2 linked regions of the Homo sapiens genome follow. The protein of the gene in region 1 interacts with the protein of each later gene in a pairwise test. Each region holds a gene or a part of one and is shown on either strand. Other genes may lie near its edges. The genes, in order: RXRG and CKMT1A.

Region 1 (7,302 bases):
AAATTAGGAGAGGGAAAGGAGCTCTTAGGGAACTTTCTGAAGAGATTGGCACCATTTACCCTGACAAAGGGAAGGCAAAGAAGTGAATCAATTCCTCCGCTGACTATATAAGGGGGCGCATTTCAAAAGGCTACTGGATAGCCTGTCCACCGCCATCATTTCTGGTCTTGATTTATAGAATTTGGGGCTCAGTTTGAACACTTTCTTGAGGACAAGAATAATAACATCCTGGAGCAGATAACAGAGAGACCATGGAAATCACACAGATAAAGAGATGGAATTGGGGTAGGTACAGAATTTACCTGCCTGGGATCAGGGGCCAGGACCTGTTGCCCTTTTAGGATAAATAATGTTAAAGCTAGAGTGGACATTTTCTATTCTCTAACGTAACACGTCCATTTCCTGAAAGACAAATTAGAGGTTTGGAGAGCCTAGCCCACACAAGCCCACACAGCAAGCACATGGCAGACCCTGTATAGGACTGGGACCCTCTGATTAGTGGGCCACCTCAGGAATTCTGGAATGTCTATTTCCATGATTTCTTGTCATATACATGTAGTTTCAAGACTGGTGAATGGATTGCCTTTGAGGCAGTTCATGGGCAGCATTGGTATCCTTGTGAGCCCTGTGTGGTCTTTATTAATAGACCTAGCCCAGTACCTTGGAGGCAGTACTGAGAGGTTAGAGATGGGCCCAGGAGGAGCCATTGTGGGTGCATGTGCTGGCTCCATCATGGCCTACCACATGCCCTCAGATATGTTACTAGTTTCTCTGTGGCTCGTAGTATGTCAGAGCATTATTGTGAGGATTAAATGAAATGTAATCTATCTAAAATGTTGAGCATAATTCCTGACACAGAGAAAGAGCTTCATAAATTTTGCCTATTGTAATAAGTGCGAAATAAACACGTGTTGGATGAATGGTTAAAATCCTTTCCTAAGGCAGAAGTTTGGTTTTATTTTTAATCATCCAGGGTTCCCTGGATGTACCCTGATGTGTGTCGTAACAGTAGCTCAGAATGTCTGACAAGTAGAAGCTACCCCCCAATAACAATATATGACTCCTCATTTATGACAGGAAGACTTAAGGCACAAAGAGGAAAAGTGAATAGCAAAGGGTTTGCTCATACAAAACCAGAATTCGAATCAAATTCCCTGACACCAAGGATATTTTCTCTGAAGCTTGAAGGTTATTTTCCTTGAGTGTTACAAATCTCTAGAAGACATTGATTGAGGACCACGAATGAAACTTAACTTAGTTTGCTTTCCCTCATCTTTTAAAGTCAAGACAAATAGAAGCTCATAACCTACCTTTAAAAAAATTAATACAAGAAGCATTCAACATTTCCCAGTAAATCCAAATATAATAAAAAATACATATTATAGTTTCTACATGTTGTCAGTGAATGAAGTCTGACAGAGTGAGCAGAAAGTAAGGATGAGACAGAAGGAGGAAGAAAACAGGAGAGAGAGGAAGAGGCCAAAAAGGGAGATGGAGAGATGAGCCCAAGGGGGTAAAAAGACACCAAAGGCAAGAGGAAATAACTATTTGTATTGAGTTTTTATAATTGCTTCATTCATCCTTACGATATTATTTCAGTTAACTACTGAAGAGTACCAACCTTAACTAAGTACCAGCCTTAACTATCTCAGTTAATCTCTGCTTCACAGATAAGGGATCTGGGGCTTACTAAGCTCAGTCATATGGCCAATGCCATTTAGCAAGGAAGGGGTAGAGTTATATGTGAAAAAGTTTTCTTTGACTCCAAGGCACAGGTTTTTTCCCCTCTTTTCACTATTTTCTCCTCTCTGTTCTCTCTCCCTTCTGTTTCCTCTTTTTCTCACCCTGTTTTGTTGTCTCTTTCCCTTATTCCTTTTCTTCTTTCTACCCTCCTTGCCTCTCTCTCAATGACACAGTACCATTCTTGTCTTGAAGCTTTTTGGCGTATCTCCACTAAGTTTTGGAGCATAAGTTGTGTTTTTGCAGTCATACTCTTCTCTGACCTACCTTGAGAGACTGATATGGCTCGCATGACAAACTAGATGTTCGGCATTGCGATTCCAGTCCATTCTGCAGCCTCTGGGGCTCATTATCTCCTCAGAGAGTAGGAGGCACTCTTGCAAGTGGACTATGGGGAGGAAGGGAGAGAAACAGAAATAGGAGCTGCTAGTGGAGTAGCTGTCATGGAGTTTCAGGCTAGTCACCTGCTTAAAGGATAATTTTCTTGACTTTGGGGATGTAAAAAATGTGTTCTAATATTGAATTCTGTTTATTGCTGCTGTGAATAAGATGGAAACTACAGCCTTCTAGATGATGGAAACTAACCCAACAGAGACTTTTCTCCTGATGAAGAGCATAGAATTGGAGGGGGCAGCAGTCTGCTTTCAATCCTAATGTATAGACATGGAGGGTTCTGAGAGTTGCACTGAACCTTGATGAAAACCCTAAGCTTTGGAGAGGCTGAGATAATTTCAGCCTACACCTTTGCCTATGTACCCTCCCCAACCTCCAAAATGAGCCACTGATTCTGAAATGTCATCTAGGTGACATCCCTCCACCCCTTCACTTACTAAATACCCACAGCTGGCTCCCTAAAGATCTTCCCTGACAAGTCGGATCAGGTGATGTTGTGTTCAAGCTGGTGCACTAGGGGCAGACCTAATGGGACGTGAATGCCAAGGATGATGCATAGGATCTGACAGAGGGAGTTTTTAAAGTAATGTGCTTGTTACTTAACTATTTCATGCTCACAGTTTTTTAGAGGCAGCAGGTAGAGCAAGAATGTGGGGATCTGCAGGGATAGCAAGGAGTGGTTGGCCCATTAAAAGAGAGGATACAATTAGAGTTTATTAAAGCTTAAAATGGATACTTCCTAGTGTCGTCACCATAATGCATTGGAAAGAATATGCACTAAAGAACCCCTCATTCTCCTTAGGCATAAGCAAACAGCTTTGCTTTCCTTGTTTCATCTGTCAACATTCCAACATCCCCAATTCAGGATCATAATGATTCCCCTTTCATAGATGAGTAAATTGAGGCTCATGTGGGTAATAAACTTTCCCACTGTTGTCCTGGGCATTATGGTAACCTCTGCATGTCCTGCTGCATGTCAGCTGTGCAAGAAGAAAGACAGAGGAGCCGAGAGCGAGCTGAGAGTGAGGCAGAATGTGCTACCAGTGGTCATGAAGACATGCCTGTGGAGAGGATTCTAGAAGCTGAACTTGCTGTTGAACCAAAGACAGAATCCTATGGTGACATGAATATGGAGAACTCGGTATGTGCTCTTAGACACACATGTGTGTTCCATTTCTTGGGTAGGGCTGGAAATGGGAGAAAGGGGTGTATTTGAGTCCTGGGACCTGTGCCTCACAGTACTTTGTTCCTTTTTCAGACAAATGACCCTGTTACCAACATATGTCATGCTGCTGACAAGCAGCTTTTCACCCTCGTTGAATGGGCCAAGCGTATTCCCCACTTCTCTGACCTCACCTTGGAGGACCAGGTCATTTTGCTTCGGGCAGGTAAAGCACATTGGCTGCCTTTTTTCCTGGGACAATTTTGAAATTGCTCTTGGGATCCTAAAAAAAGTAGCCTGATGGAGCTGCAACATGTCCAAGCTATGTACCATGCTGATGATGAAATAACCCTGTGCGGGGTTGTTCATTCCCAAAGGAAGCATCGTTAATGAAGAAGTGGGACTCTTTTCCCATGCAAATTTTACCACGGCTTTATAATTTGCATAAATTTTAAAAAGACTATTAAATCATTTTATTGAGGATAATTTGAAGCAGTGGCTCATTATTGTAATGAAATTGGCAAATAGAGGTATTCCCATTTCATAGGTGAGATAAAGAAGCCAAAGATGTTTGCTCAAGCTTGTACTAGACGGGTTCCACTGTCTTCCTATTTTAAGACTCTATGTGCTGTATTTTCTTTTGCCTCCTATTTCTGGGACACTTGCAGGCCGTTGACATATGCCATATCTCCTCTTTGTCACTGAGCCAGCAGGGAAATTTCATGAAGATTGGCTGAGCATTGGGAACCAGTCCACTCATTCATCCCTGTTAGATAATGAGCACTCACTGAGTGTCAGCTGAAAGCTACAGACTGTGTTGGGTGTTACTAGACAATGCCAAAGAAACAAAACTAGGTTGTCAGATCCTAAGGGGAAAAACTGCAAGGTATATTAGCTTTATCCACCATGGCAGCTAACATAGTGACTATTATCCGCTAAATGTTCAACCCACATTTGTTGACTGATTAAAAAAAAAAAGAATCCTTGTCTTCAAGCTGTCATTCTGGGTTGCATCTGAGAGAGAGTGGGGGGATGTGCAGAGCCATAAGTCAGGAGACCCCAGTCTTATCCTTTGTTTCTTCGCTAATGAACTGTGTCATCTTGAACTAATTCTTAACCTCCCTAGATTGTCAATTCTGCTTGTGTTATGTGGGATAATAGTACATGCCTTGGGTGATTATAAGTAAAGAAAGAATGTGTTCTGTTTTCCCTCAAGACCTCCTCCTTATCCTTGCAGGGTGGAATGAATTGCTGATTGCCTCTTTCTCCCACCGCTCAGTTTCCGTGCAGGATGGCATCCTTCTGGCCACGGGTTTACATGTCCACCGGAGCAGTGCCCACAGTGCTGGGGTCGGCTCCATCTTTGACAGGTGTCTCTCTCCTGCTTCCAGTATTTGTGTGTATTATGTGTGTGTGTGTGTGTGTGTGTGTGTGTATACACATGTGTACATACATGAATTCTCACGTGGGCATGAACCTCTGGGTAGTGCTGGGATGGAGGATGGGCAGCCCAAACAGTTAGCTACACATGACCATGCAGAGACCACTAGGCACATGAAACTATAAACCTGGGGAATGAGGGAGAGATTAAAAGAAAGATTGAGATCACAATAAGATGGAGCCACTCAGAGGCCAGCACAGTTGCCAGGCAGTTGGGAGAACCTATTCTCCCAATGGATTTCCTAAGGAGAGATTAGATCTTGACATCAGCTAGTAAGTTGTGGGTGGAGAGGGTGAACTGTTTATCCTGGGGGCCAAGGATGGGAAAGGGATCAGGATCTGTCCTCAAGAGGCCAGGCAAGATGGACTGTTTATGCTGGGCTCTGGATGATCTCAGAAGGAGGCCTGCAGCAGGAGCAAACCCATCTTCGTCAGGCAGGGATACCCTGACAGAAATTCTGTGCCTTAAATGATACTAAAGGAAAATTAAGCCATCTGATAAGGAGTTGAATAAAATGAGTAGTTAATGACTTGAGAGTGAGAGGATGGAGAACTGGTAAAGAGGAGAATTAAGTTGAAATTAATCTCTCTGTCCAATGCCAGGGCCCCGTTGTCCCTTTCTACCTCCATCGTAAATGGTCTTCTTTGGTCATGTGCACATCCACTGAGCTGTATCTATTACTTCCCTGCCCTTTCCCACATGTTCCATGTAGAGCCCAACATGGTGTTTGGAATGACTCATCCCCCTTCGTGGTAACCGGACCTTTCTACCAGTTCATTGAATGCTGCCCTCTGCTGTGTTTTTCTAGACATGCAATCCCCTTACCTTGCTGTGCCTGTTGCGTTTCTAATTTCCAAGACTTCCATGATGCCTTTCCATTTCCCTGCTTGGAGTTCATTGCTTCCTCTTTGGAACCCACTTGGACTTTGCTCATGGCAGTTATATTCCTGGGCATCGTGCTGCTGCTAGTTTTTAATGTCTGTTTCTTTAGTTAAACTGTAATCTCCTTGCAATGAGGGGTTGCATCTTTTTCATTTCTGTACCCCTAGTAACTGGTACATCATCTGGAAACAGAGTGGGCTTATAAAAATTTTGGTTGAATTCATTTTATTGGCTCTTGGCCTGTTACTTACGGTTTTCTCATTACCTGCTTGTTTCCTGTTAACAGAGTCCTAACTGAGCTGGTTTCCAAAATGAAAGACATGCAGATGGACAAGTCGGAACTGGGATGCCTGCGAGCCATTGTACTCTTTAACCCAGGTAACCGCCCTTCAACCCCAGGGGATGTGTGTGTTCAGCCCTCTTCCACGGTCAACCTCCAGTGCTCCCATGTTATTGGTCCTCCATCTCAGCTGAGACACAGATGGCAGAGCCAGGAATCCAGGAGAGCTCACAGTGTCAGCTAGAGCCATTTTGGAAAATGTTTTGAATGAGTGTGGCAGGCGCGTGTCTGGGGCAAGTGGGGAAGATGAAAGATGACGGTGGCCCAGGGTGGCAGTGAAGGGGGTGGTAAAAAGCGATCACATTCTGGATATATTTCTAGATAAAGCCACTGTGATTTGCTGATGGATTGAATATAGAATGAGAAAGAAAGAAAGGAGTTATAGATGACTCTCTGGGTTTTTTTTTTTTTAAGTTTTGTTTTCCTGAACAATGGGAAAAATGAAGTTCTTATTCACCGAGATGGGGAAAACTCCATGAGGAGCAAGTTCTGACAGCGGGTGGGTAGGAATCGGGATCTTGTCTTTGGACATTAAAATAGGAAATGGGTAGTAGATATCCAAGAGTGGCTGCCCAGGAAGCAACTGCTCATATGAGTCTGGACTTCATGGGAGAAGCCATGTGCATCTGAGAGCTGTCAGCCTCTGCCTGTGTAAGGCTGTGACACTGGGGTGAGATCATCTGGGGAGATAGAGCAGAGAAGATGGCTGGGGACTGAGCCCTGGGGCATGCCAACATTTAGAGGTCAGGTAAAAAAGGGAGAGCCAGCAGAGGAACCTGAGAAGGGGCAGGCAGTGAGATAGGGACAGAATCAGAAGGGTGGTGTCCTGGAGGCTCGAGGGAAAATAGTCTTTCAAGAAGGAGGCGATCAGCTCCAGCAAACCCTGCTGTGGTCAAGAAAGATGAACCTTCAGAATTATGTAGTCATTCATGCAGAGGCTTTATCTCCAGAATTAGGCAGTTAGTTCATCAATGCAGGACATGTGCCAATTCAGCTTTCGTGCCCCATCTTATGACTCAGTCCATGCTCAGCACATAATAGGCACTCGGTAAATGTGTGCAGGTAATATTTCGAGAATGGTCCGGATAAAATTAAGCTCTCCTCCTTAGAGTCAGTGGTGGGTACATTTGCCTATTCATGGAGTTTAAAATCTTTGCCCCAAGAGTTTGTTGGGTAAATTGGGCACAGAAAGAAGAGCAAGGGGGCATGAATGACCAGCTTTGTTTATTTCACACTTGTCCCCATCCAGGGTGTCTCTAGTAACTCTACAGAGAGTGGCCAGAGAGAATGGGGACAGCCTCTGCTGGAGGGTGTGTAATCAAAGGCTAACTCAGTCATGTCTTT
Region 2 (3,166 bases), on another chromosome or scaffold:
CAAGGTGAGTTCCCAGCTGCACAGCTTGATCCTCCATCTCCTGACCCAGAATCAAACCCCTAATTTGGTGCTGTCTGGCTCTTAGAGTGCACCCAGGGAGATCCCTGGAGTGAAGGAGTCTACAGGCAGAGCGCTAATTTCCAAGTATCAATGCTCCTGGAGAGCTGAGTTGTGATATTACTCCCATTCCCTGTCTATTATAGGTCGAAGTACAGCCTGGGGCCTCCAGGACTGGTCACGACCTTCCTGGTCCCTGGTATTGACTATCAGCTTCCTTGGCCACCTGCTATGAGCCTGTCTCTACAGTAGAAGGAGATTGTGGGGAGAGAAATCTTAAGTCATAATGAATAAAGTGCAAACAGAAGTGCATCCTGATTATTTTCAGAAGCTGATGAGGAATATGGGTAAAATGTTAATGCTTTCCACCCACCTGAGAATCAGTGTTCCTGGGTTGCCATATCTGGAGTCTCTTTCCATCATAAATAATCCCACTGCCTCTTTTCATTTCCTGAAGGCTGCTCCCTCCTCACCCCACCATTAGAAGTAACACAGACAGCTGCAGCATAGCAAGGAGTCTTTACTAGGATGGAGGCAGGGGATGCGAGGGCAGGTCCAGAGCAAGTAGAATGGGCCATCATTAGAATGAGCAGAACTCCTTGGAATCTTGAGTCATCAGCTGGCGATGGGGAGTTAATGCTTGGTGTGGATGACAGGTGTGGGGATGCGGATATCCTGGCCTCTCTCCAGACGCCGTTCACAATCAATCAAATAGTTTACTCCATCGATGACCAGTTGCACCAGCTCCACCTGAAGGACACTAATCTTTGATCTCTGCTTCCTACAGTCTGAGTTTTTCTTTATCACTGACTGACTTGCCTGCTCATTTCCAATTGCCTCCCCACTCAACCTGAATTTCATTTCAGATTATGTTACATCCCGGAGGCTCACTCACTGCCATATTTCAGCCCCCACAGACCTATACCTCTCCTCATCCTAATCCCTTAGGATCTCACCTCTGATTTGCCTAGTCGGTCCAAATTAGAAATATCAAAGACACCGCCTGTGGCAGCAGTGTCCACTCCTCCAGTACCACGCTTTTGGAGTCTTAGGTTCTCCAGGATCTTTGGGAAGCGGCTATCCTAGAGAGGAGATAGGGATTGGGAGCAGGGTCAATAGAGGCAGAGACTAGTCCTACCTGAAAGAGCCCTGAACCTGCTCAGAGCTCTGTCTCCTGAACTTTTTTTTTTCCTTTTTTCTTTTTTTTTTTTTTTAGACAGGGTCTCTCTCTGTCACCCAGGCTGGAGTGATCACAGCTCACTGAAGCCTCGACTTCCCAGGCTTAAGTGATCCTCTCACCTCAGCCTCCACTACACCCAGCTAACTTTTGTATTTGTAGTAGAGATGGGGTTTCACCAGGTTGCCCAGGCTGGTCTTGAACTCCTGGGCTCAAATGATCTGCCTGCCTTGGCCTCCCAAGTGTTGGGATTAGAGGCATGAGCCACTGTGCCTGGCCTGTCCTCTGACCCTTTAGCCACAACATGTTTGGCTCCTCTCCAAAGGGTCCACTCCCTCCCCATCCACAACCCACCCTTCCTTACTCACACCCCTCTGTAACCCCACAACTCCTTTACTTTGCTTAGCAGGGGCAGTTTGATGTGCACTCCTGCCCGAAGTCCAGTGCCCAGGTTAGATGGACAGGTCAAGATGTATCCCAAACGCTCATTCCACATGAACTCCCAGCCACGTTCTTGGATAAGTCTCTCCACCTGAGTCCACAAAGTTTTTATTAATGAAAAATCAGGGATATTTCATTAACCCTGGACCCTCCCTTAGCTAGACCCACAAGAACACTAGAAATTTGTCTAGAATAGAAACTTGGCTGTGAATGAATGACATTGGTCTTTTTTTAAATGAAAAAGGTTTGTTATTGTTTTCATGCATGCATGATGCAAAATTATGATGTGCATAATAATGAGATTGTGAAAAAATATCTTATGTGGAAGAAGAAAACTCGAAGGCGTGGTGTATTAAGGATGATCTAGGGAAATGAACAGAGGTGGTAAACTGAACTGAGAGAGGACTGATTATTCAATGAGGTCTGCATGCATCGATTATCTTTGCTTTGCTAATGAGCCTAGAGCTTGGAAGGGTCCTTTCAGACAGAAGATGAAGGTGTAAGCTTTGCCAGGAAGAGGTGAGATAACGTTCTATTAGCTGTGAACGGAGCACCTGTGTGAATGCAGAGAAAGATGAAAACAGAGCAGGAAAGCCAGATTCATAGGAATAGGGGACAGGGGGAAGGCATTTTGCTTCCATTAACCATGTAGTCATGAAGATGACTATTAGAGTTCAAGAGACAAGGGATCTAGCAGAGTGATGATCACAAAGACCACTATCCAACATGAGTAAAGGGATCCTGTTTGTAGTTCAGAAGGAACCATGCCACCAGGGATATCTTATGTGCTGAACATGGGGGGAAACTCTTCCATCCAGAATAATATTGCAGCTAACACTTTAACACTTATTAAGCACTTACTGTGGACCAAGTACTTTACCTGTATTTCACTTAATCCCCACAACAACCTAAAATGTAGAAAATCTCATTATCCCAATTTTACAGATGAGGAAACTGAGGCATATAATTTAAAGGTACTTCCCTACCCACTCATAGTCAGAATATGTTATCTATTACTTGCCAAAAATAGTAGAAACTTCTCAGAATCTAAAAGAGGAGCTCTTTTTCTTTGCAAACCTAAAATAGAACTGTATGTTTGAGAACATACAGTAAGAATTGAATTGAGTTTATGGGGATTTCTAATGTAGACTTGAATACGGAGACCCAATCCATGTAGGATTGATGATTCAGTTCAACCTCTCATCTAGAGCCACATATTCTAGAACTCGAACCATTCTATCCTCCACCTTCCCCAGTCTCCCTCTGAACTCTCAACTTAAAGCCTAGACCCGATACTTTAACAAGAATGATAGAATCCAGAGTCAAGGCCTACCTTGTCTCAGAACTGGGTGGTTATATTAGAGTCATGAACACAGCAACCTCTCCCCGCCAACATCAATCTAAGCTCGAATGTTTTCCTTATCTGCACACCTCACCATCCCACTGCACACATCCCAGGCACTGACGTGCCATCTCAGTTATTCCTTCTTT

The links.
Region 2: the proteins of RXRG (region 1) and CKMT1A interact in binary tests that used the Homo sapiens proteins (3 or more experiments, as listed by UniProt).

The regions. Positions count from the first base shown.
Region 1 is NC_000001.11:165,406,921-165,414,222, reverse strand, and holds part of RXRG (retinoic acid receptor RXR-gamma), read left to right. Parts: intron 1-3,113; coding exon 3,114-3,274; intron 3,275-3,391; coding exon 3,392-3,521; intron 3,522-4,532; coding exon 4,533-4,665; intron 4,666-5,904; coding exon 5,905-5,996; intron 5,997-7,302. UniProt on the Homo sapiens protein: Receptor for retinoic acid. Retinoic acid receptors bind as heterodimers to their target response elements in response to their ligands, all-trans or 9-cis retinoic acid, and regulate gene expression in various biological processes.
Region 2 is NC_000015.10:43,696,614-43,699,779, reverse strand, and holds the end of CKMT1A (creatine kinase U-type, mitochondrial isoform 1 precursor), read right to left. Parts: intron 1,767-3,166; coding exon 1,632-1,766; intron 1,140-1,631; coding exon 1,014-1,139; intron 808-1,013; coding exon 691-807; 3' UTR 558-690; downstream 1-557. UniProt on the Homo sapiens protein: Reversibly catalyzes the transfer of phosphate between ATP and various phosphogens (e.g. creatine phosphate).